4 linked regions of the Homo sapiens genome follow. The protein of the gene in region 4 purifies or fractionates together with the protein of the main gene of each other region. This does not show direct contact. Each region holds a gene or a part of one and is shown on either strand. Other genes may lie near its edges.

What was found.
Region 1: the proteins of FAM200C (region 4) and ARID3A purify together in Homo sapiens (affinity purification with mass spectrometry; 2 studies listed by BioGRID and IntAct, with this or other methods). This does not show direct contact.
Region 2: the proteins of FAM200C (region 4) and CRLF3 purify together in Homo sapiens (affinity purification with mass spectrometry; 2 studies listed by BioGRID and IntAct, with this or other methods). This does not show direct contact.
Region 3: the proteins of FAM200C (region 4) and ZNF507 purify together in Homo sapiens (affinity purification with mass spectrometry; 2 studies listed by BioGRID and IntAct, with this or other methods). This does not show direct contact.

What each region holds. Positions count from the first base shown.
Region 1 is NC_000019.10:929,035-936,068, forward strand, and holds part of ARID3A (AT-rich interactive domain-containing protein 3A), read left to right. Parts: exon of another isoform or gene 1-111; intron 112-227; 5' UTR 228-494; coding exon 495-862; intron 863-3,383; coding exon 3,384-3,708; intron 3,709-7,034. UniProt on the Homo sapiens protein: Transcription factor which may be involved in the control of cell cycle progression by the RB1/E2F1 pathway and in B-cell differentiation.
Region 2 is NC_000017.11:30,786,666-30,793,699, reverse strand, and holds part of CRLF3 (cytokine receptor-like factor 3), read left to right. Parts: intron 1-27; coding exon 28-250; intron 251-869; exon of another isoform or gene 870-1,127; coding exon 1,128-1,260; exon of another isoform or gene 1,261-3,062; intron 3,063-6,038; exon of another isoform or gene 6,039-6,261; intron 6,262-7,034. UniProt on the Homo sapiens protein: May play a role in the negative regulation of cell cycle progression.
Region 3 is NC_000019.10:32,376,587-32,383,620, reverse strand, and holds part of ZNF507 (zinc finger protein 507), read right to left. Parts: intron 1,155-7,034; coding exon 1,020-1,154; intron 905-1,019; coding exon 538-904; 3' UTR 1-537. UniProt on the Homo sapiens protein: May be involved in transcriptional regulation.
Region 4 is NC_000005.10:160,392,630-160,397,070, forward strand, and holds the end of FAM200C (protein FAM200C), read right to left. Parts: intron 2,911-4,441; 5' UTR 2,862-2,910; coding exon 1,077-2,861; 3' UTR 519-1,076; downstream 1-518.

The sequences.
Region 1 (7,034 bases), on a different chromosome or scaffold from region 4:
TCTGGCCACAGCGTGTTTCTCTGTGGCCCCGTGCGGGGCGACCTTGCTACCCAGGCCCACAGTAGGCTGTATGCGAAGAGCCTGCGCCTCTGCCTCCAAGAAGGCCTCCAGGTCTGCATCCTGCATGAGATGGACATGAGAGCTGATCCCCAGGGCCTTCATGGGGAAGGAAGGAGGGGGCTTGAGGAGCTCAGGCCTGCTCTGACTGTGCCTTTTTTCCCCCTCAGGTTTCTGCAAATGCGTGAATGAGCCGGATGCCAGCCTCTGTCCCCTGGAGCCCAGCGTGAGGAAGAGGCATGCCCCATCAGCCTTCAGCTTGAGCCCGGCGGCCCCCGCCCCCGCCCCCTGCCACCCTGCACTGCCCCGGCTCCCCCGCGGCCCCCACGCTGCAGTGCGGCCGGGCCCCCTCCCCGCAGGGGCCGCCCCCGCCGCCCACCCCTAGCGCCCGTGGTGGTGGTGGTGGTGGTGGTGGTGGTGGCCCGGGCCGCAGGGCCATGAAACTACAGGCCGTGATGGAGACGCTGTTGCAGCGGCAGCAGCGGGCGCGCCAGGAGCTGGAGGCCCGGCAGCAGCTGCCCCCCGATCCCCCTGCTGCACCCCCCGGCCGGGCCCGGGCTGCCCCCGACGAGGACAGAGAGCCCGAGAGTGCCCGGATGCAGCGGGCTCAGATGGCCGCACTGGCAGCCATGCGGGCTGCAGCTGCGGGCCTGGGACACCCAGCCAGCCCCGGCGGCTCTGAGGATGGGCCCCCAGGCTCGGAGGAGGAGGACGCGGCCCGGGAGGGGACACCGGGCTCACCCGGGCGAGGCAGAGAAGGGCCAGGAGAGGAGCACTTTGAGGACATGGCCTCCGACGAGGACATGTGAGTTGGGGTCTGGGGCAGGGCCTTCTGGGGGCTGTTACTGGCTCTGAGTGTCACTCTGCTCATCTGCAGAATGGGAGTAAGGGTCAGGTCGCGGGATCTCCTTCCTGTAATTCCAGCAGTTTGAGAGGCCGACGTGGGAGGATCACGTGGGCCCAGGGGTTGGAGACCAGCCTGGGCAACATAGCAAGACCCCATCTCCGCAAAAAATTAAAAAATTAGCCAGGCATGGTGGTGCACCTGTGGTCCCAGCTACTGGGGAGGCTGAGGCAGGAGGATCCCTTGAGAACAGAAGTTGAGTTGTGATTGTGCCACTGCACTCCAGCCTGGATGACAGAGATAGACCCAGTCTCAAAAGAAAAATGGTTTTTTTAGCCGGGTGCTGTGGCTTACGCCCGTAATCCCAGCACTTTGGGAGGTCGAGGTGGGTGGATCACCTGAGGTCAGGAGCTCAAGACCAGCCCGGCCAACATGGCGAAACCCCATCTCTACTAAAAATACAAAAATTAGCCAGGCGTGGTGGCAGAAGCCTGTAAACCCAGCTACTCGGGAGGCTGAGGCAGGAGAATGGCTTGAACCTGGGAGGTGAAGATTGCAGTGAGCCAAGAATGTGGGTTTTTTTTTTTTTTTTAGACAGAGTCTTGCTCTTTTCGCCCAGGCTGGAGTGCAGTGGCGTGATCTCAGCTCACTGCAACCTCCTCCTCCCGGGTTCACACCATTCTCCTGCCTCAGCCTCCCGAGTAGTTGGGACTACAGGCGCCCGCCACCACGCCTGGCTAACTTTTTGTATTTTTAGTAGAGACGGGGTTTCACCATGTTAGCCAAGATGGTCTCGATCTCCTGACCTCATGATCTGCCTGCCTTGGCCTCCCAAAGTGCTGGGATTACAGGCGTGAGCCACCACACCCGGCCAACTTTGTTTCATCTTAGTTAACTTAAAGCAACCTAGCCACCGATGGCTACAGCAGATTCAGCGGCAGGGGCAGATAAAATCTGCAGCCGGCTGGACCTGCATAGCGTGTGGGTCCCCCCAGGGCTGGCTGAGGGCTCACTTGCTGTGGGATCCTGGCCTCCAGGAACCCGCATCTTCCTGGGAGGACCTGAGCAAGCAAAGATGCTGGGCGCAGTGGCTCACGCCTGTAATCCCAGCACTTTGGGAGGCCGAGGTGGGAGGATTGCTTGAGCCCAGGAGTTCAAGACCAGCCTGGGCAACCTAGTGAGGCCCCATTTCTACAAAAAGTACAAAAATTAGTCGGGTGTTGTGGCATGCATCTGTGGTCCCAGCTACTCGAGAGGCCGAGGCGGAAGGACTGCTTGAGCTCAGGAGGTCAAGACTGCACTGAGCTGTGATCACACCACTGCACTCCAGCCTGGGCAACAGAGAAGACCCTGTCTCAAAAAACAAAACTGGCCGGGTGCAGTGGCTCATGCCTGTAATCCCAGCTACTCAGGAGGCTGAGGAGGAGAATCGCTTGAACCTGGGAGGCAGAGGTTGCAGTGAGCCGAGATCGTGCCTTTGCACTCCAGCCTGGGCAACAAAGTGAGACTGTGTCTCAAAAAAAAAAAAAAAACAACCAAACAAAACCTAGCAGCAAAGAAGCAGGTGATATCAGGTTGTACAAACAGCTGCCAATGGCTGGGCGTGGTGGCTCACGCCTGTAATCCCAGCACTTTGGGAGGCCGAGGTGGGCGGATCACGAGGTCAGGAGATCGAGACCATCCTGGCTCACACGGTGAAACCCCGTCTCCACTAAAAATACAAAAAAATTAGCCAGGCGTGGTGGCGGGCGCCTGTAGTCCCAGCTACTTGGGAGGCTGAGGCAGGAGAATGGCATGAACCCGGGAGGCGGAGCTTGCAGTGAGCCGAGATTGCGCCGTTGCACTCCAGCCTGGACGACAGAGCGAGACTCCCTCTCAAAAAAAAGACAAAAAAAAAAAAACGGCTGCCAAGAAAGTCTAGGAGGGTGCCGTGGAGGGGCAGTGGCGAGGGTGGGGCGGATTTCAGATGGCGGTGGGAGAATTCTCCCTGTGGAGGGAAGGGGAGGTGGAGCTGGGACAGCATGCATGGTGCAGGATGCAGGAACCAGCCTGCCGTAATGATTCCCTTTTTTTTTTTCCCAAGAGAGTCTTGCTCTGTGGCCCAGGCTGGAGTGCAGTGGTGCCATCATAGCTCACTACAGCCTCCATCTCCTGGGCTCAAGGGATCCTCCCGCCTTGGCCTCCCAGAGTGCTGCCGGGATTATAGGTGTGCGCCACCGTGGCTGCCTGCGTGATGCTTTTCAAGGCCCCAAAATTCACGCTGTAGGGACGGCTTGTGCTGTTCTGGGCTAATTGGAAACAAAGTGGGCGTCACGGGTGCCCCACGCTGTGCTCATGAGCGCTCTCTGCAGTCTGAGCTGGCGGCGGCCGGCTCTTCCTATTTCCAGAGAGGGAAACTGAGGCTGGGCGGGGAGTGGGTCTTTCCTTGGGCTGGGACGAGCCAGCACCTTCTCCCCTGACTCCTGCCCTCTGCTCACCCCAGGAAGCCCAAATGGGAGGAGGAGGAGATGGAGGAAGACCTCGGGGAGGATGAGGAGGAGGAGGAGGAGGATTACGAGGATGAGGAGGAGGAGGAGGACGAGGAGGGGCTGGGCCCCCCAGGCCCTGCCAGCTTGGGCACCACGGCACTGTTCCCCCGAAAGGCCCAGCCACCCCAGGCCTTCCGCGGCGATGGCGTTCCCAGGGTGCTGGGGGGCCAGGAGCGGCCGGGGCCTGGCCCTGCCCACCCCGGAGGGGCCGCCCACGTAGCCCCGCAGCTGCAGCCGCCTGACCACGGCGACTGGACTTACGAGGAGCAGTTTAAGCAGGTGAGTGGGCGCGTCCCGCGTGGCGGCTGAGGCACCTGCTCCTGGGCCAGTGGGGCCCTTTGAAGGCCCACGTTGCACGGGGTGTGTGCTGAGCCGGGCGTCGAGTTGAGAGCTGGGGGTTCCTGCGGTAGCTGTGCTTCCTGTGCTTCCCTCCTGGGCGTGGGCTCGACCAGCTGGCTGTTCATTGCTCTGATGTGGGATGTGTGAGGAGCACCCGGCCGGGTAGGAGAAACCTGGGGGGCTCCACGGCCCCCATATCGGAGGTGATGGGGCAGAGATGGAAAGGTGGGCCTGGGAGGGAGAGGCTGGCGCCGGCCCGAGCTGGGCTTGGGTTGGAGGAACCAGGCCTGCGGGCGATGCGGGCAGAGAGGCCGGGGCCTTGGTGACGTGGTGACTTGGCCTCCTCTGTCCCCTGGCATCTGTGGAGAGCCGTGGGGGGTTGCGGGCTGCAGCTGGCAGCCGAGGGGATGTGGGGGTGGCTCAGGTGTGGCTGCAGGAGACGCAGGAGCCAGGGCCTGTGAGGCTCCGAGTGGGCGGTTAAGGCTGGGGCCGGCAGGGGGTCTCAGGGACCCCAGGCTGAAGGAGGAAGTAGGGGCCGCCCCAGCCTTTCCCCGCAGGCGGCCAGGCCAGAGGAAGTGGCCGGGCGGGGGATGCTTTGAAGTTGGGCCGTGCTGGGCCGGGCAGATGGAAACCAGATGGTGGCCAGGCTCACATTCCAGCCCTCGTCCAGCTGGGCTCTGCCTCGACCTCTGGGCGCGGCTGGGGGGAGCCACCTCCTCGCCCGGGGCTGGAGCTGGTCTGGGCTCCCGCAGGGAGGTGGATGATGGACACGCTGGGACATGCCTGCCTCGGGGCAGCCCCTTCGGCCCTGGGCTTCCAGAATCCGCTCTGAGGAGCCTCCTAGGAGGGGCCAAGGCACAGACACCCAGGGGGGCCTCCCCGGGGCTCCTGACTCCAGGGGTGCCGGGTAGCTTAAGGGGCGGCCCTAACCCCAGCAGCCCTCAAGAGACTTAAGGTTGGGCTGCCTGGAAACTCACAAATAGTAAAGAGCTGAAAGCCGGACACGGTGTGGGAGAATGGCCAGGGCAGCGGCGGGGACTCGGTGGGGGGGGGGGGCGTCTCGCTGATTCCACCCTGCTCTGTGACTCAGTTTCCCACTCCTGCAGAAGGGGATGCTCCACGGGCCACACTGCCGCGCGTCCCATTCTGCCAGTGAGAAAACAGAGGCTCAGTGTTGGGAGGAGGGGTCTTGTGATCTTTTCTGGGTTTAAGATGATACGGATGAGCATGCTGAGAGTGGATTCTCTTTAATTTCATTAATTTAATTCACCAATTAATTTAACATTCACCCAATATTCGCCATCTGCCCGGGACTCAGCCCGCAGGGAGCCCTGGGCTGGAGGGGCGGGCAGGAGCCGGACGGAGACCTCCATCCCCGCAGGGTTATAGCCAAGCCGAGAGGGAGGGTCAAGGCCCCCCATTCAGTCGGTCCTTCGGGGGTCAGAGGTGAATGGGACCCCCTGACCCTGGACACACGCCCCGCCCAGACAGCCCCGGCCTCCAAGGCCCAAAGCCGATGGGGGAGTTTTGGGGTGACTGGCCCAGACCAGGCAGGGATGAGGGGCCAGGCGCCCTGACCCCACAGCCCGCAGCATGTCCTGAGCGAAGGCAGGAGGCAGAAGCCACTGTCTACCTTGTCTGGGCGACACCGCGGGTCAGGGTTGTAGGTGCCATGTGGGGTTTTTCTGCAGCGGGAAGCCGAGATGGGGAAACTGAGGCCAGTGCAGGGAGGGGGGTCACTGTGTCACCGGCAGCCTCAGGTATTCCTGGAGATCCTGCCGCCCCGCACCTGCCCCCTGGGTGTACCGGGCAGTGCAGAGGCCCTGAGGTGGACTAAAGCTCGGCTTGTGTGTAGGGACCGGGTGCCGCCTCTGGGTCTTGCGGGAGACGGGATTGGAACTCCGAGAAGATGAGGGCCTAGGGATGGTCGTGGGCAGCGGGGGTGGGGGGAGGCCCCCGCCCTGCAGTCCTGTGACTTTTTTTTCTCTAGAGAAGGGCTTTCACGGTGTTGCCCAGGTTGGTCTCAAACTCCTGGGCTCAAGTGATCTGCCTCACTCAGCTTCCCAAAGTGCTGGGATTACAGGCCTGAGCCACGGTGCCCAGCCAGTCCTGGGATCTTATCCTGGGCTGTTCGTGGCAGGTCCAGCCGCCGATGCCGCCGCCCGCCCAGCTGGCCAGACACCTGTGTTCCCAGTGTCAACAGTGGCCTGGGCCCAACCAGCCCAGTCAGTGTTACCTCCCGCCCGGCCCCTACTGGGGCCCCTGTTGACTCTGGCGCCTGCCCCACCCCCTTCCTGGCACGTGGCAGGCCTGGCCCGCTGGCCGGCCGCTTGGCACCGTCTCTGCCTCTTCCTCCCAGGTCCTGGCAGGGCTCGGGGCTAACTTCCGCCTGCAAATCCTCGACAGCTGTGAAATTCTGCTGTCGGCTGCAGGTCTGGTGGGTGGCCAGGCCGCGGCGGGGGGCCGGGCGCAGCAGGCTCAGGGCCACGGGTTCTTTCCTTGGACACCTGGAACCTTGCTGCCTGGGGCCTGGGGACGTGCAGTTTTGGAGGCCAGCACGTGTCGGGCAGTGATTAGGATCTCAGCCTCCTGATGTCTGACGTAGCCTCCTGGTGGCCTCCTGTCACCCACACAGCAGGCCCAGCTTCTAGAAAGCGGCCACGGTAGGATTTTATTGGATTATTATTATTTTTGAGGCAGGGTCTTACTCTGTCGGGTAGGCTGGAGTGTAGTGGTGCTGTCCTAACTCACTGCAGCCTCGATCTCCTGGGTTCAAGCGATCCTTCTGCCTCAGCCTCCTGAGTAGCTGCGAGTACAGACGGGCGCCACCAAACTCAGCTAATTTTTGTAGAGACGGGGTCTTGCTATGTTGCCCAGGCTGGTCTAGAACTCCTGGGCTCAGGTGATCTGCCCTCCTTGGCCTCCCAAAGTGCTGGGATTACAGGCGTGAGCCACCGCACCCCACCATGGTAGGATTTTATTTATATATTTGTTTATTTATTTTTTGAGACGGAGTCTCGCTCTGTCGCCCAGGCTGGAGTACAGTGGCGCGATCGCGGCTCACTGCAAGCTCTACCTCCCGGGTTCACGCCATTCTCCTGCCTCAGCCTCCCGAGTAGCTGGGACTACAGGCATCCGCCACCGCGCCCGGCTAATTTTTTGTATTTTTAGTAGAGACAAGGTTTCACCGTGTTAGCCAGGATGGTCTCGATCTCCTGACCTTGTGATCCGCCTGCCTCGGCCTCCCAAAGCGCTGGGATTAAAGG
Region 2 (7,034 bases), on a different chromosome or scaffold from region 4:
TACCTAACATAAAGCTTTTCTCCCTAGGTGGATGATGACTTTACAGCCCAAGATTACAGGCTCCAGTTTCGTAAATGTACTTCAAATCATTTTGAGGATGTATATGTAGGTTCTGAAACTGAATTCATAGTATTGCACATAGACCCCAACGTTGATTACCAGTTCAGAGTCTGCGCCCGAGGAGATGGCCGACAGGAGTGGAGTCCTTGGAGTGTCCCCCAGATAGGTCATTCCACATTGGTGCCTCATGGTATGCTGCTAACCTTTTCTCTCCTGAAGCCTAACTATATATTAGAATACCTGTATTCTGTGCTAAGGGCAGCACACTGACAACCAGCTATTCTAAGCATAGATCCTGAATTGATAAGAACAACATGCACCATGTCTTTTACTCAGATTACCTCATGTGATTTTTGTTTTCATCAGTTCTTCAGAGTCCAAAAAAAATGCTGGACAAGATTTTTAGCCTCATTGAAAACCAAAGATTGAAAATATTATGTAGGGCACTGATATTCCTTTTTATTCTTTTTTTTATATTTGAATGTTATTTAGTTAGTTTTTTTGAGACAAGGTCTCACTCTGTCGCCCAGGCTGGTGTGTGGTGGTGCAATCATGCAGCCTGACCTCTAGATCCTTCTGCCTCAGTCTCCCAAGTAGCTGGGACCACCTGCATGCACACCACACCTGGCTAATTTTTTATTTTTTTCTAGAGACTGGGTCTTGCTATGTTGCCCAGGCTGGTCTCAAATTCCTGGGCTCAAGCAATCCTCTTGCCTCGGCCTCCCAAAGTGCTGGGATTACAGGCGTGAGCCACCGCGCCTGGCCTATTAATTAGATTTTTATCAGGTTGGAATAAGTTCAAGCAATTATGCTTGTACAATGATTTTATTAGATAAGAGATAACACTTGTGTGATTTATTATGTCAAAATTATGCAGGAATATACTAAAATCTTTTGTAATTTGTGGGACTGATCATGATACCCTGTTAATGGAATCTTTTATTTTATTGAACTTGACCATGGCCCCTAAGAGTAGTCTCCCATTTCCATGTTTTATTTAACGTGTCTGTATTGAAGATATCCCTCAAGAGATTCTAACAGTTTTCAATATCTTTGCTTTGAAAAAGAGTGGACAGCTGGTTTTGAGGGGTACAGTCTGAGCAGTCGAAGAAATATAGCACTTCGGAACGATTCTGAATCATCGGGTGTTCTCTACTCCAGAGCTCCGACTTATTTCTGTGGGCAGACATTAACATTCAGGCAAGTAGATATTAAAACATCTCACCTGCCTCAGGAAGCAGAGTGAAGTGCATAGAGCATACATAAGCTTTGAATTCAAAACATCCTGAGTTTATTCCGTCATTTATAGGCAGTGTTACTGTGGGAAGGCTTCTTTATTTCCTGTAGCTGTAGTTTTCTCATCTGTATTCACAGGGTTATTACGTAGATTAACTGGGAAATGTATATAAAATGCTTGTTATTTAATATGTTTATATCTCTTTTCCTCTTGGTAAGTAGAGGTAAGTAGAGTATCTCTCAAAAGTCAATCTTAGGCTGGGCATAGTGGTTCACACCTGTAACCCCAGCACTTTGGTAGGCCGAGGCAGGTGGATCACCTGAGGTCGGGAGTTCGAGACCAACCTGAGCAACATGGAGAAACCCCATCTCTACTAAAAATACAAAATCAGCCGGGCATGGTGGCACATATGCCTGCAATCCCAGCTACTTGGGAGGCTGAGGCAGGAGAATTGCTTGAACCCAAGAGGCAGAGGTTGCAGTGAGCTGAGATCATGCCATTGCACTCCAGCCTGGGCAACAAGAGCGAAACTGTGTCTCAAACACACACACAAAATTAAAAAGTAAATCTTAAAAATTTAGAGGCCTGGCCAGGCACGGTGGCTCACACTTGTAATCCCAGCACTTTGGGAGGCTGAGGCGGGCGGATCACGAGGTCAGGAGATTGAGAACATCCTGGCTAACATGGTGAAACCCCATCTCTACTATAAATAAAAAAATTAGCCGGACATGGTGGTGGGTGTCTGTGGTCCCAGCTACTCGGGAGGCTGAGGCAGGAGAATGGCGTGAACCCGGGAGGCGGAGCTTGCAGTGAGCCGAGATCACGCCACTGCACTCCAGCCTGGGCGACACAGCAAGACTCCGTTTCAAAAAAAAAAAAAATTTTAGAGGCCAAGAGACTGGACGCAGTGGCTCACACTTGTAATCCCAGCACTTTGGGAGGCCGAGGCGGTTGGATCACTTGTGGTCAGGAGTTCGAGACCAGCCTGGTCAACCTGGTAAAACCCCATCTTTACTAAAAATACAAATATTAGGACAGGCGCAATGGCTCCCGCCTGTAATCCCAGCACTTCGGGAGGCTGAGGTGGGTGGATCACAAGGTTAGGAGATCAAGACACCACCCTGGCCAACATGGTGAAACCCCATCTTTACTAAAAATACAAAAATTAGCTGGATGTGGTAGTGCACACCTGTAATCCCAGCAACTAGGGAGAGTGAGGCAGGAGAATCACTTGAACCCGGGAGGCAAATGTTGCAGTGAGCCATTGCACTTCAGCCTGGCAACAGGGCAAGACCCGTCTCAAAAAGAAAAAAAAAATTAGCAGGGTGTGGTGGCACACACCTATAATCCCAGCCACTCAGGAGGCTGAGGCATGAGAATTGCTTGAGCCTGGGAGGCAGAGGTTACAGTGAGCTGAGATCGCGCCACTGTACTCCAGCCTGGGTGACTGAGCGAGACTCCGTCTCAAAAAAAAGAAAAAAAGCATAGGCCGGGCACTGTGGCTCATGCATATTATCCCAGCACTTTGGGAGGCCGAGGTGGGCAGATCACGAGGTCAGGAGATCGAGACCATCCTGGCCAACATAGTGAAACCTCGTCTCTACTAAAAATACTAAAAATTAGCTGGGTGTGGTGAGGTGCGCCTGTAGTCCCAGCTACTCGGGAGGCTGAAGCAGGAGAATCACTGGAAGCCTGGAGGCGGAGGTTGCAGTGAGCAGAGATCGTGCCACTGCACTCCAGCCTGGGAGACAGTGCAAGATTCCGTCTGGAAAAAAAAAAAAAAAAAAAAAAAAAAAGCAAAAAAATTTACTGGCCAAGAATTTGTTTTGTCCTTTGTGAATCATTAACAGCAAGTCTTTGTAAGAGACAACACTGTAAACATATTATGTATATGCTACTCTCTAAAGTAAAACTGAAAGCAAGCCTCCCCTACCACTAATTAATGTTGTTTCTCTACCCATTTCTTTCTGTAATGGAAAAGTTTCTTTTTTCTTGTTTTCATGTTATCTGAGATGTATTCTTTATAGTCATGTTTCTGAATAGCTCTTCGTAGAAACTAAAGACCAGTTTTGACTTAGAGAAGTAAAGTTTGCCTGATTTTCACCATACTCACCTTAGTGTAACAAGCTCTCCTCTAAGTTTTAAGTCTTGAGATGGGATTTTATTGTGAATGCTTGACCCAAGTTCCTTTTGTTCTCAGGCCCTTATTATTTAAGGCATGGAGAATATCTGAATATTTTATCTAAGCCAGTGTTGCTGTATTCCTCTCCAGCTAAGTAATTTGAATTGTCAGCGGTTGTCAGATTATACTAGTTTGTTTTGTCTAATTTTTGACACCTCACCCCTTAATGAAGAATGACTCAGTAAACAGAAAAATACCAACAAAGAGAGAGAGAGGAAAAAAAAAAACAACTAATACCTAAAATCTATTTAACTATTCCCCAGGTAATCATGAGTTTTCTGTACTTACATACCCCTTCTCTGCTTATGTCCCTTGTTTACAGAAGCACTTCGGTTAGTGACTCTCCTGAGAACAAGGTATTTCTGTGCAATGACAGAGCTTCCTAACTTGATAAATTCAGGCCAGATATCTCAGACTGCAATAATGATGATAATAATAATAATTGCAGTTAATATTTAAACAGTATTTACTATGTGCCATGTACTGTCTTAAGTATTTTACTTGTATTAACTCATTTGATTTTCATGGTAACCCAGTGAGATAGATGGGTTATTTATTTTAGGGATGAGGAAACTGAGGCATAGAGAAGTTATTTACCCAGTGTCACACAGCTAGTAAATGCCAAAACTAGGGTTTAAATCCAGGCAGTTCGACTCCAGACTGGTCTGTATTGCTTCTTTTTCATGGGAGAGTTAACATGATTCTAGTTAGTGTTGAAGTCTACAGTTTCTCTATTACTGTGTCCTTAGCTCTTTAACTTTTACCTCTTATGACCTTTCACCACTTGATCTGATGCTCTCCTGCTTTTTAAATTCTTCCTCCTTGGACACATGGTAATGTCTGATAGATTGCATAGTTAGGTTTATTTCTTAGACCATTCAGTAAATATTTATTAAGACATTGGAAATTATACAAATTGATTTAAATTCACCTCTGCTGACCGTGATGTGAAAGACACATTAGGTCTCAATAAACTGTTGAGTCTCTCTTGCATCTCCTAAAGATGCATCACCAGGCCCCACTTGGCAGGGTGATTAACTGAAATTCAGTTAAACTCAATATAATGGTAGCCAGCCTTTTGCATTTTTGTCATTTTTTTCTTTGTGGAATGAAATGTTTTCTCCCCTTGTTTAAAGGAATTTCAGGCATCAGCAGTGAAGCCAGAGATGTGAATGCAAGGGGGACTCCATGCATAAGGGCATAAGGGAGGAGCAAGTGCGCCTACTTGAATCAAGAGAAACAATATTTAGTTTTTTGAGGGTACTTAAGGGCCTAGTAGTTAGAAGGGAGACTATACTCTTGAAGGCACTACGTTAGCCGGGCACGGTGGCTCACGCCTGTAATCCCAGCACTTTGGGAGGCTGAGGTGGGCAGATCACGAGGTCAGGAGTTCGAGACCAGCCTGGCCAATATGGTGAAACCCCATCTCTACTATAAATACAAAAATTAGCCGGGCGTGGTGGTGTGTGCCTGTAATCCCAGCTACTCAGGAGGCTGAGGCAGGAGAATCGCTTGAACCCAGGAGGCGGAGGTTGCAGTGAGCCGAGATCACGCCACTGTACTCTAGCCGGGGCAACAGAGTGAGATGCTGTCTCAAAAAAAAAAAAAAAAAAAAAAAAAAGAAGGCACTACTTTGTTATTTATCCCAGTCAGTCCCTGCTGAAGCTTCTGGAAGGCTTGGAGCTGCTGAAGCCAGAGAAACCTGTGATACTGGCTGGATTTTAACAGTCTCTAGACCCACTCTCATTAGATGCCCAGGTCTGCTAGCAACCCCCTCCTTCCAGGTCTCCCTCACTTCCTATGTGAACATTCCTGCTCTTTCCTTGCTTCTAAGATTTTCTGATTTTTTTTAAGGTTTCCTTCTTTCTTTTCTTTTCTTTTCTTTTTTTTTTTTTGAGACAAAGTCTCATTCTGTTGCCCAGGCTGGAATGCAATGGCACAATCGGCTCACTGCAACCTCCACCTCTCAGGTTCAAGCGACCCTCTCACCTCAGCCTCCTGAGTAGCTGGGACTACAGGCGCCTGCTACCACGCCCGGCTAATTTATTGTATTTTTAGTAGAGACGGGGTTTCACCGTGTTAGCCAGGATGGTCTCAATCTCCTGACTTTGTGATCCGCCCACCTCGGCCTCCCAAAGTGCTGGGATTACAGGCGTGAGCCACTGCACCCGGCCTATTTTCTTTCTCATTCCCCTCCCCAGCTCTCCCCCTCTTTTTGTTTAAGACAAGGTCTCGCTCTGTCGCCCAGGTTGAAGTGCAGTGGCATGATCTCAGCTCACTGCAATCGCCATCTCACAGGTTCAAGTGACCCTCTCACCTCAGCCTCCTGAGTAGCTAGGATTACAGGAGCCACTACCACACCCAGCTAATTTTTGTATTTTTTGTAGATACGGGGTTTCACCATGTTGCCTAGGGTGGTCTTGGAACTCCTGACCTCAGGTGATCCACCCTCCTTGGCCTCCCAAAGTGCTGGGATTACAGGTGTGAGCCACTATGCCCGGCCCCTCCTCCCCATACTTCTTTAGACTGCTCAGATATGAAATAACTTCAGAAACCTACCCAAATATTATGATCCTGCATGTTTGCTATTTCACAATCAATGACATTTTGAGGCCACATTGACTATAAATAATCACATCTGTCTTTGGAAAAGCCACATTTTGTTTCACACTAATTTTTTTTTTTGTCCTTGCAAAGTTGGCTTTCTGGATGGAGAGAATGATGTGTCTGGCAATAGGGATCTGTACATTTCCTATTTCAAGAGCACACAAAGTACTGACATCTGAAATGAAAACACAAAAGGAAAAGCTTAAACTTGCCACATAGGAAGTTCTTCATGCTTGAATAGTGTCTTCATAACCATAATGGGATTTTTTAGGATTATAATAGTTCTTTTTAAATGCTTTATTTACTTAACAAATAGTAATCAAATCATTGCAAATTCTTATATGGAAGATTTAGGCGCTGGCAGCAATAGTTACATAAATTATAATGTCAACTATGACAAACCTTCTATGTGTCTAGAGCTAGAATATAAAATAGAAGTGTGCCATCATGGCTACAAATGGTTAAGAATATAGATTCTAGGCCGGGCACGGTGGCTCACTCCGTAATCCCAGCACTTTGGGAGGCCAAGGAGGGTGGATCACCTGAGGTCAGGAGTTCCAAGACCAGCCTGAGCAACATGGTGAAACCGTGTCTCTACTACAAATACAAAATTAGGCCAGGTGTGGTGGCTCACGCCTCTAATCCCAGCACTTTGGGAAGCCGAGGCAGGCGGATCACCTGAGGTCAGGAGTTCGAGACCAGCCTGACCAACATGGTGAAACCCCGTCTCTACTAAAAATACAAAACTAGCCGGGCATGGTGGTGCATCCCTGTAATCCCAGCTACTCAGGAGGCTGAGGCAGGAGAATCGCTTGAACCAGGGAGGCAGAGGTTGCAGTGAGCTGAGATCGCGCCATTGCACTCCAGCCTGGGCAACAAGGATGAAACTCCATTTCAAAAAAATAGATAGATAGATTGATTGATTCTAGAGTCAGAATGCCTGTGTTT
Region 3 (7,034 bases), on a different chromosome or scaffold from region 4:
GTATTTCAGTAGATCATTTCAAAGCCCTCTAATTATGTTTCCTTGTTGACTCTGTTGGTGACACTGAAAAAACCCCCTCCCAGAACTGCCTCCCATTTCTCACTGGAGGCCTCACAGTCTGCATTTGACAAGTGAGAAGAAAACTAAGCTCTGCTTAAGACTGTGACCCTTTTATGACTTTTAGAATAGTTCCTGAAAAGCCCTTTCTTAACTCTTGCTGGCATTTCTACACTCTAATAAGCTTTTATTAATAAATACACTCGACACTAAGAAGGGGTGACAGAGGGTTAATACAGGATTACACCTCTACTTCCTCTTTGACCCACTCCCCCTCACTCAAAATATTTAAATATCATTACTGCTTGTCCATTTGGAATTCCTTTTATTACAAGTTTGGTTCCAAAGTCACATCTGTCATTTCCTCAAAAATCACATCAACGACTTCTTCTGTGGCAGGAAGTTGTCTGACAGCGTAAAGGTGAAACTGTGGTGAAGGAATCCTCTTCTACTGCTTTCCTGCTCGAGTCATTATTCCACCTAATTTGTGTTTAGAGCTGTATTGTGGTCCTTATTCAGGATGATGTTTACAATTTCACCCTCGTGCTCTTTCATATGATCCAAGAGGTTTTCTTTGCTGGTTGATTCAAAACCACAAATACAACAGCAGAAGAGTAAAACGCAGTACTCCATGCTAGGAGGGGCCAGACTGGAGATTTTTTCTAAACTATATGAGGTATTACTTGTAGGGCTCAGTTTCTCATTCTCGTTGGTACCCAGAACTTCACTGGGAGTCTGGGACATCAGTTCTGAAGATGACACTGCATTTTCTGAACTTCCAGTGACGGGATCTGCACTCTCTTCACTGCTCTTTAATTGAGTCTTTCCAGGGGATTTCCCCAGAACTCTTAAAAACAAAACAAACACAGCACACCGTGAGGAGGCTACAATGTAGGACTAGTAGATTTAATCCTGGCTTTAATTTACATATAGCAATAAAGGGAGGGGGTAGGATGAAATACCTGCCACTTTGTGAAATCGCGTCGTTAATAGCCTTGTTTACTTGTTCGTAGTTGTAATTTTGGTCACTTGCATGTTTCCACATATGAGACTTCAAAGAAGGAGGATGGCTACACACATACCCACACAGAGAGCATCTGGAAGACAGGCAGGCAAGGGAAAATCAGAACGGTCCCATAACATCAGTGAAAAATTATCATGATTCTGTAACAATTATTATAGCCCTTCCTCCGAACCCTTATTAGACATATCGTATTTCACTGAATCTAAGATGTTACTGATTCTAAGAGGTACACTGATTTCAGAGAGGTCCTAGAATGGAAGTCCTAGAATCAATGAAAGAAGGTCTTTTATATTATAAAGAATTAGTAAGAATCAAGACAAACATTCCAGATTACTTTAGTTATTACAATATTTGGAAAGATTTTTGATGTAGTAATATGCAAAATATTTGCTCTAAATTATTTAATCATACAAAGAAAAACTTACACAATTAATACTTTGTACCACTCTACTACTTGAGAAAGCAAAAAGGAACGAAATGATTTTCAACATGAACTGTGCATTCTTTATAGATCCACAAAAAATGGAAGCAGTCGTCTTGAAAAAGCTTCAGCAATTTAGATTTCATAAATAAAACAAATAATCTTAAAAAGTTTCTATTAGAAAACATAATTGTTCCACATACTTGAGTACACTTGGTAAAATCTGAATTTAACAATGAAAGATTTTTAGAAAAATTAATAGACTTTATTTTTTAGATGCCTTTAGGTTTACAGAAAAAACTGGTCAGATAGAACTGAGTCCTCCTATAACCCCTCCTCCCCTGCACCCAATTCCTCCCATTATTAACATCAGTGTGCTGTATTTGTTATAAATGATGAATCTATATTGATAAATTTTTATTAACAAAAGTCCATAGTTTACATTAGGGTCCACTATTTGTGTTGTACAATTCTGTGGGGTTTTTTGTTGTTGTTGTTGTTGTTGTTGTTTGAGATAGAGTCTTGCTCTGTCTCCCAGGCTGGAGTGCAGTCTTGCTCTGTCGTGATCTTGGCTCACTGCAACCTCTGCCTCCTGGGTTCAAGCGATTCTCATGCCTCAGCCTCCTGAGTAGCTGGGATTACAGGCATGCACTTCCACGCCTGCCTAATTTTCATATTTTTGGTAGAGATGGGGTTTCACTATGTTGTCCAGGCTGGTCTTGAACTCCTGGCCTCAAGTGATCCACCTGCCTCCCAAAGTGCTGAGATTACAGGTGTGAGCCACCATGCCCAGCCAATTCTGTTTTGACAAAGGTATAATGCCATGAATCCACCATTCCAGCGTCATATGAATAGTTTCACTGCCCTAAAAATGCCCTGTACTCCACCTTTTCATCCTTCCTTCCTGCCCCTGAATCCCGGGCAACCACTGATCTTTTTGTTGACTCCATAGTTTTGCCTTTCCCAGAAGATCACATAATTGGAATCATAGCGATATGCATGTATGGTTTTTACATGTCTTTCAGGGCTTGATCATTCTTATTGCTGAGTAATATTACATTGTGTGGATGTATCATAGTTTGTTTGTTCACTCACCTGCTGAACAATATCTTGGTTGCTTCCAGTTTTTTGCAATTATGAATAATTGGTGATAGGAACATTCATGTGCAAAGTTGTTTTGTTTTGCTTTTGAGTCTGGGCCTTACTCTGTTGCCCAGGCTGGAGTACAGTGGCATGACCATAGCTCACTACAGTCTCAAACTCCCGGGCTCAAGCAATCCTCTTGCCTCAGCTTCCCAGCAAGCGCAGGTTTTTATAAGGAAAGCCCAAGTTTTTATAAGGATAAAAGTTGTCATCATTTGGGCAAACACTCAGGAGCATAATTGCTGGGTCGTATTGTAAAACTGTCATCTTTTTAGGAAACTGCAAATGCACTTTTCCAAAGACATTTTTGTTAAATACTTAATTACAAACCTAACAAACCAGATAACTTACTTACCTGAACTCTTTCCTACACCAATAAGAGACACAGTCAGCAATAACGAGGCACAAAGAAAATCAAACGGCATAGGAGTAAATAAAACAATTAAATACGGTCAAAGACTAAACTCTTTTTCTCACCCACCTCCAATTTAACTTTGTGATAGCATGCAGCTGTATTCTTTTATCATACACTCTGAGGAATCAGGTCCAAGGCCAAAGGTCTCTAAGAAATACCAGCCCACTTAACAGGCAATAAACAGGCAGTTAGTTCTTTTTTTTTTGAGACAGGGTCTTGCTCTGTTGCCCAGGCTTGAGTGCAGTGGTGGAATCATGGCTCACTGCAGCCTTGGCCTCCTGGACTCAAGTGATCCTCCTACCTCATACTCCCTAAGTGCTAGGATTACAGGCATGAGCTACCATACCCGGCCTAAATAGGCAATTCTTGATAGGACTTCTAATAAATTCAACTATATGAAAAGATGTTCAATCTCACTAACAATCAGGGAAATGTATCACACCCCTCAGACTGGCAAAGATAAGTGAGTCTGATAAAATGTGGAATCTGATAAATCTGGTAAGATTTTTCACAGATGTGGAAAAATGGAAATGTACAAATTTTATGTATGGCACTCTGAAGAGCAATTTGGCAATATCTATTAAGGCTGAAGTGGCACACACCTGTAGTCCCACAATTCTGGTGTTCACAAGGAAACACATACAAGAATCATCCTAGCCATGAACACCAAAAAAGGATACAACCCACAGTGACTGTTCTTCCACAAGCATATGAAAACAAATTGGTTTATTTTCATATAGTGGAATGTTACAAAGTGGAAAAAAAAACAACAACCAAAAAACCCCCATGAGATCTACACTTAGCACCAGAAACCAATGCCAATAATGATCAGTGAAAAGAAAAATAAACAGATCTGTTAAGCTTTTAATTTAAATAAATTGTTAAAACACCAAAACCAACAGAATGTATTACTTAATACATCCATATGTATGTATATACACATACATATGTTATATACATAGAAAAGTTATTCACGAATACCTGCAATGATACACATCACTGTCAAGACAATGGGTTACCTCTCAGGAGGAAGGGGTGAAGAAGTAAGAAAGTGAGGCTTTAGCTATATCTACAATGTTTTATTTCTTCAAAATGTGGTAAAATGTTTGACATTTCATTAAATATTTAAAAAAATTGTTCCCCTATTCTCTTTAAGCTTTTACAGCCTGCATTCTCCTTAAGACTTTATTACAGCTGGCATAATAAAACAAAATCACTACATTTTATTCTTGGTTATCTACAAAAAAACCCTAACCTTAATTCATTTTATTTTGCCCATTTATATCTGAGATGCAGCAATTTTTTGACAAACCTCAATAAATCTATAATATTTTCACTAACATCTTTATCAGAGGGTGGGCAACTGGCAACTTCTCCACCCCCAAGCCATTAAACTCAGTGTCTGTATCTGTGACTGTCACACGGTCGTGGTGTGTACTGTAGTGTGGTCACAGTCCCCTGCTCAAATGTCTCTGGATCAGTTGCTTGAGAAGGGCAACTGCCCTGCACCATGATGGCTGGGCACCCAGCTCATTGCCAGCCAAGAGATGCCCACTCCCTTCCGCCTAGTGCCTCTACCAAGGTGACTTTACATATGTTGTGCTATCATACGTTAATTTTTATGTTATGCAGAGGGGAAACAGACACGAAATGCTGGCTGTTCAGACACTCGCCTCCTCACTTTCATTCAGATGTGGTCCCGAGGCCTCACCAGAAAATTCTTTATCTGGAATGATCCCCCAGTGACAAGTCAGACTTATGCAACAAGAATTTCATATTTTTGAGAAAACTGGGTCAGAAAGTAAACTCCAGAAATCTCAAATTGATCCTATAGAACATCTCTAATGTTATTCCAACCTTTTAAAAATAAGAGTGATGAGCTATTGTTTACTGTTTTCCCTTTTTTTTTTAAAAAAAAAAAGCTTCTAATTTTAGAATAGTTACAGGTATAGATACAGATATATAGAAAAGTTATTTCCCTTACTGTTAACATGTTACCTTCCTGGGGTACATCTGCCATAAATCAGGAGCCAATGTTCCTTACATCATTATTAACTGAAGTCCACACTTTATTCGGATTTCCCTGGTGTGTACTTAACATCCTGTTTCTGTTCCACGACCCCATCCAGGACAACATGGCTTTTAGTCCTCACGTCTCCTTAAGATCTTCTAGACTGCAATTATTTCTCCTACTTGCCTTGTCTCTTTGAGACGGAGTTTCACTCTGGCGCCCAGGCTGGAGTGCAGCGTTGTGGTCTCGGAAAACTGCAACCTCCGCCTCCCAGGTTCAAGCGATTCTCCTGCCTCAGCCTCCCGAGTAGCTGGGATTACAGGTGTGTGCCACCACGCCTGGCTAATTTTTGCATTTTTAGTAGAGATGGGGTTTCGTCATGTTAGCCAGGCTGGTTTCTAACTCCTGACCTCAGGTGATCGCCTGCCTCACCCTCTCAAAGTGCTGGGATTACACGCACTGAGCCACCAAGCCCGGCCAACTTGCCTTGTTTTTAATGCCCTTGACAGATCTGAGGAACATGGGTCAGATATTTTGTAAAATGTCCCTCAGGTTGGGGCTGTCTGCTGTTTTTTTTCATGGTTAGACTGAGCTGATGGGTTCTTGGGAGAAAGGCTACAAAGGAAAAGGGCCATCCTCCCCACATCCCACTCTCAGGAGAACTCACCCCTGACCTTCCTCCCCTGGCTGAGGTCAGGTTTCTCCAGGGTCAAGTTCCTCTTTCTCAACCCGGTTTCCAAAGTGTACCACTGGGAAGGGGGTCACTGGGTGCAGCCCACACGTAAGAGCTGGGATAATCAACTGCCTCCTTGAGGGAGGGGTATCTACGTCAATTACATGGAATTCTTTTGCATGGGGTGTGTCTATTCTCACCCACCTATTCAACCATTTATATACATCAGTATGGACACGTGGTTATTTTATACTTTGGGATGTGGGCAGCAAGCCACCTAGGTGCCGAGGCAAGAGACCGAGGGCACGAGCTGTTCCAGTATAATAAAATATATAAAACAACAAGAGTTAATGCTAGATATAGATCATAGATATGATTATATATGAATATCATTAATCATTAGTTTGTAGCAATTACTCTTTATTCCAATACTATTATAATCTTTGCTCTATAATCATAACCTAGGAAAAACCAGGCCATATAGAGATAGGAGCGGAAGGGACACAGTGAGAAGTGACCAGAAGACAAGAGTGCGAGCCTTCTGTTATGCCTGGACAGGGCCACCAGAGGGCTCCTTGGTCTAGCGGTAATGCCAGCATCTGGGAAGATGCCCATTGCCAAGCGGACCATGGTCTAGCGGTAGCGTCAGTGTCAAGGAAAAACACTCGCTACTTAGCAGACTGGGAAAGAGAGTCTCCCTTTCCCCAGGAGAGTTTAGAGAAGACTCTACTCCTCCACCTCTTGTGGAGGGCCTGACATGAGTCAGGCCCGCCCGCAGTTATCTGGAGGCCTAACCATCTCCCTGTGATGCTGTGCTTCAGTGGCCACGCTCCTAGTCTGCTTTCATGTTCCATCCTGTACACCTGGCTCTGCCTTTTAGTTAACAGTAGCAAAATTAGTGAAAGTACTAAAAGTCTCTGATATGCAGAAATAATGGCGTAAGCTGTCTCTCTCTCTCTCCCTCTCTCTCTCTGCCTCTGCTGCCAGGCAGGGAAGGGCCCCCTGTCCAGTGGACACGTGACCCATGTGACCTTACCTATCATTGGAGATGACTCAACACTCCTTACCCTGCCCCTTTGTCTTGTATCCAATAAATATCAGCGCAGCCTGGCATCTGGGGCCACTACCGGTCTCCGCGTCTTGGTAGTAGTGGTCCCGCAGGCCCAGCTGTCTTTTCTTTTATCTCTTTGTCTTGTGTCTTTATTTCTACAATCTCTCGTCTCTGCACACAGGGAGAAAAACCCACCGATCATGTGGGGCTGGTCCCTACATTGGTGCAAATTCTGTATT
Region 4 (4,441 bases):
GGCAGGAAGGGGATTGTGGCTTTTCCTTATAGGACTCTCTATATCATTTTTTCCCAGCCTTGAGCATGTAGTACTTTGATAAAATATTAATGTTTAAAAATAGAAATGAAAATTTATTTAAATTAAAAAATATTTTGCCAAATTATCATCCAGAAAAAGTGTGCTAAGTTAGATTCCCATGGGGAATTTTTTGATGGTCTTGAATTACTCCATTGATTTCATGTCAATTTATTTATGATTTATACTCTGACATTTTGAACTTAGAAAAATACATATAAGATGTAATATAAGTGACAAAATTAGGGTAAAGGAAAAATAAGTATAGGAAAAATTGAACCCAGAGGACCCAAGAATCCAAGAATCCATCAGAACAGTCTGGAAAGCTGGTTATGAATGAGGATCCTTGACCTTATCACAGGCCTACTAATCACAATCTCTAGGGTAAGGCTCAGGAATCTCCTTTTCAGCAGCCTTGATAACTTGGAGTTCTGAAGTAATTTAAAGATGACAAACAGTGATTAATATATTAGGCTATTTATTAATATGATATTCATAGCACAGGAGCTAGGGGAATGGACATTGTGAGACTAACTCCAAAGAGTATATTTAAAAGTAAGTCTTACATAAGCCAGATCATTCCTTTTCCCATTATATTTCATAATCCTCTTCTGATTTCATTAACCTCTCCATAACAAAGACGGGCGAACTCAATCTTTCATTTTGCCTTTTTGACTTCTGGGATATCTTCTCTTTTCTCCTGGCTCAATTCCTAGCCTATTGCACCATTTAGCTGGATATTCTAGTGCTTAGGTATCTTTTTCATATACCACACGAACAGGTTAAACAGATACTTAGAATTGGGAAAATCTCATGATAGCAACTAGGCAGTAGTACTTAATCTTTTCTGCTGTGTTTTTATTCTCAAAACATATTTTCACATGCCTCATTCAAAATTAAAGTTCTTAAGTTTTTTAGACATAGAATTCAGTATATCATAAATATGAAAGAGACAGAATTACAGCTTAATTTTACAATGATATTAAGATTGAAATTATTCATTAAAAAAGTATATCAGCTTACAGTGACTTCTGCTGTAGCTGTAGCTTTTGTTCAATGATGTCCGAGAAACGAGGAACTTTTTTTGAAATAGCCACACGGATATCATCACTCAGATTAAAGCAGCTTCTGGACTTTGTTTTGAAATGTAAAAGTGATGAAAATCCCAACTCACAAAGGTATGTAGTTGCAAATGGCATAAGGATTTCTAGAGCTGTCTTTGCCAGGTTTGGAAATGCTGTGAATTGGGCACACCAGAAATCCTCAAGCTTCATTGTCTCAAATTCCATTAGGATTTGGCCACTAGCTCGTAATTCAGCAAGATCATTTTTCATTAAATAACTATCATCAACAAAATCGATATTAAAAAGAAATGGATCCAATATCCATTTACTTGCCTCATTAAGATCTCCAATGGAAAAATATCCATGGAAGAAGTTGCTCAATTGTTGCAGATGCAGTGTTATTTCAGCTGCAATGAATATGCCTTCATTATCTGAAACAATTATTTCTTCAAGAAAAGGAAAATTGGTAAAATTTCTTTTCTCAATTCGTTTTTGCCAAAATGGAAACTTCCTAACAAAAGCAGATAACTTCTCTCTAGCTGATACTGTGTTCATCCCAGTCCTCTGCATAGATGCACTGAGTTCATTTAAGTGTTTGAATAAATCTGCAAGGTATGCTAGGTGAATTTTAAACTCTTTATTTTCAAAGCCATCAACTAAATTACTGCTCTTGTGGTGAAGAAACTGATTTATTTCTTCATACATTTCAAAAATGTGAGTAAGTATTTGGCCTCGGGAAAGCCACCTCATTTCAGTATGGAAAAGGAGGACACTATATTCTATGCCAATTTCTTCAAAGAAAGCCTGAAATAGGCGATGATTTGGAGCTCTCCCTTTGATGAAATTTATTACCCTCACCACAGTAAACAGAGCATCCCTCAGTTTTGTAGGCAATGTCTTTATGACAAGTGCATGAGGATTCAATAAACAATGTGTAACTACGATATGAGGTATCTCTTTTTTCACGTAGGCAACAAACTCGGAATTTTCTCCTAGCATAGAGGAGGCACCATCAGTACAAACAGAGCCACATACATCAAGTGCTATCTTATGCTTCAGAAAGAAGTCTCTGAAGAGATTGAACACATCTATTCCTTTCATGGATAGCTGCAATGGTTCACAGAAGAGAAATTCTTCTACGATCTCTCTTTCTTTTATATAGCGCACAAATGCCATTAGCTGACTGCAGTCATCCATGTCAGTTGTCTCAGCAAGCTGAATACCCACTTTAAGAGGACTGGCTTTGATATCTTCTAGAACTTGCTGTAAGATATCCTGGCTCATTTCATCAATTCTAGAATGGATCACATCATCTGATAAGGGTACCTGCTGAAGCTTTTTTTGTGCATCTGGTCCCAAAACTATTTGTGCTATTTCCAGTGCACAAGGTTTCACTAACTTTTCAGCTACTGTATGAGGATTCTTCTCCTTGGCACATAAATACGCAAATTGATACGATGCTTGTAATAAAGTATCCTCATGAGATGCAACTCCAAATGCTTTCAAGGTTTCACTCTGATCAGATGGTGCTGGCATATGCTTCAGGCTATTGAGATCATGCCCAGCTACACCACCATGCTGTCTGTTAAAATGGTCTGACAGTTTTGATGGTCTGAGGTCAGCATTTGAAAATACTGAGTTACACAACACACACTGTGGACGCTGAGTTCCATCTACTTCCGTTGTACAGGTGAACCAGTAGCGAACATAGTCATCATCCCATTTGCGTTTCTTCGACATGGCACACAAAAATTCTCAGGTAGTATTCCAGAGATGCCACAGAATTTTGCTTTGGGAGTAAAATATAACCCACACATTAAAAACCAGTGGCTAACTGAATTAAAACAAAGCCACATCACATGCTATCTTGTATATGTCAAGATACAGCCTGCAGCATGTCAATTCGAAGTAAGCCATGACAGGATATAGTTCAACTTAAAGCTAGCAACTCATAGCTAATGCCCTGGAATAAATGATTTGCCAGCAAGTTATATATGGGAGATTTGAGCTTAGACAAGTTATGAACACCTGTAAGTCCTTTATTGGTGAATTATAGTTATGGCTTAACTTGTTTTCAATAATGTATGTTACAAACAAATCTAGCACATTTTGTATCCCTAGAAAGGGCATCTCACTACCACCACCTTCTTCCACTCAGCCCCAAAGATGTATGCATACCCTCAGTTAAGAATCACTGAATAAAGGAGCAATTCACTAAATAAGGAAGGGTGGATTCTGACATGGAGGTTAAAATAATTGTATACATTTATGGGGTACAAGCACAATTTTGTTATATGCATAGACCACATAGTGGCAAAGTGAGGGTTTTTAGGGTATCCGTCACCCAAATAACATACATTGTACTCATTATTTCTCATCTACTCCCTCCCACCCCACTCTTCCACCCCACCCTTCCAAGTCTCCTTTACCCATCACTCCATTATCCACGTCCATGTGTACACATTATTTAGCTACCATTTATGAGTGAGAACATGGTAGTTCTTTTTAATAGTTAAAGACTAAACAGGTCTGTAATACTATTTGAACCTTGAGCAGTTTTGACTCCAACTTAGGCAGAGAATTTCAAATAGGTCTTTAAGTCTGATTAAGCCACCCCTGATGCAAAGGTAGGCTACAAATTGGCTCAGAGCTTCCTTGCTGCTAAGTGTAACACACTATCAGTCCATGATTCATAGTGTCCATATAAAAAAGCAAAATGGTCGGGCGTGGTAGCTCATGCCTGTAATCCCAGCACTTTAGGAGGCTGAGGTGGGTGGACTGCCTGAGCTCAGGAGTTCGAGACCAGCCTGGGCAATATGGTGAAACCCCATCTCTACTAAAAATACAAAAAATTAGCTGGGCATGGTGGCATACGCCTGTAGTCCCAGCTACTAAGCCAAGATCATGCCACTGCACTCCAGCCTGGGCGACAGAGCAAGTCTCTGTGGAAAAAAAAAAAAAAAAAAAAAAGCAAAACAACTTGCTCAGGGGAAACACAACTATTCTTGTTACCGAGACTTCAGAAAAATCCCTCTCATAGGAGAACACTCTTAAGTAAAATAACGAATTTCATGATGCTTTTCCACCTAAATACCTCTAAGGGAAAGCAGTCAAGAACACACACATGCACATACACAAAATAAGCAGCATTCCTAAGGTTTGGTTTAACCCAAAGACAGGATGTAGAAGGCCCTACCCATAGAGATTCTGATTCTCCAGCTATGGAGTGGGGGCCTAGAATCTGTATTGTAAGTATTTTAGATAATTCTTATAAATAGTAACTAGAACAGTGATCTGTGACAAGAGACACCATATCATCA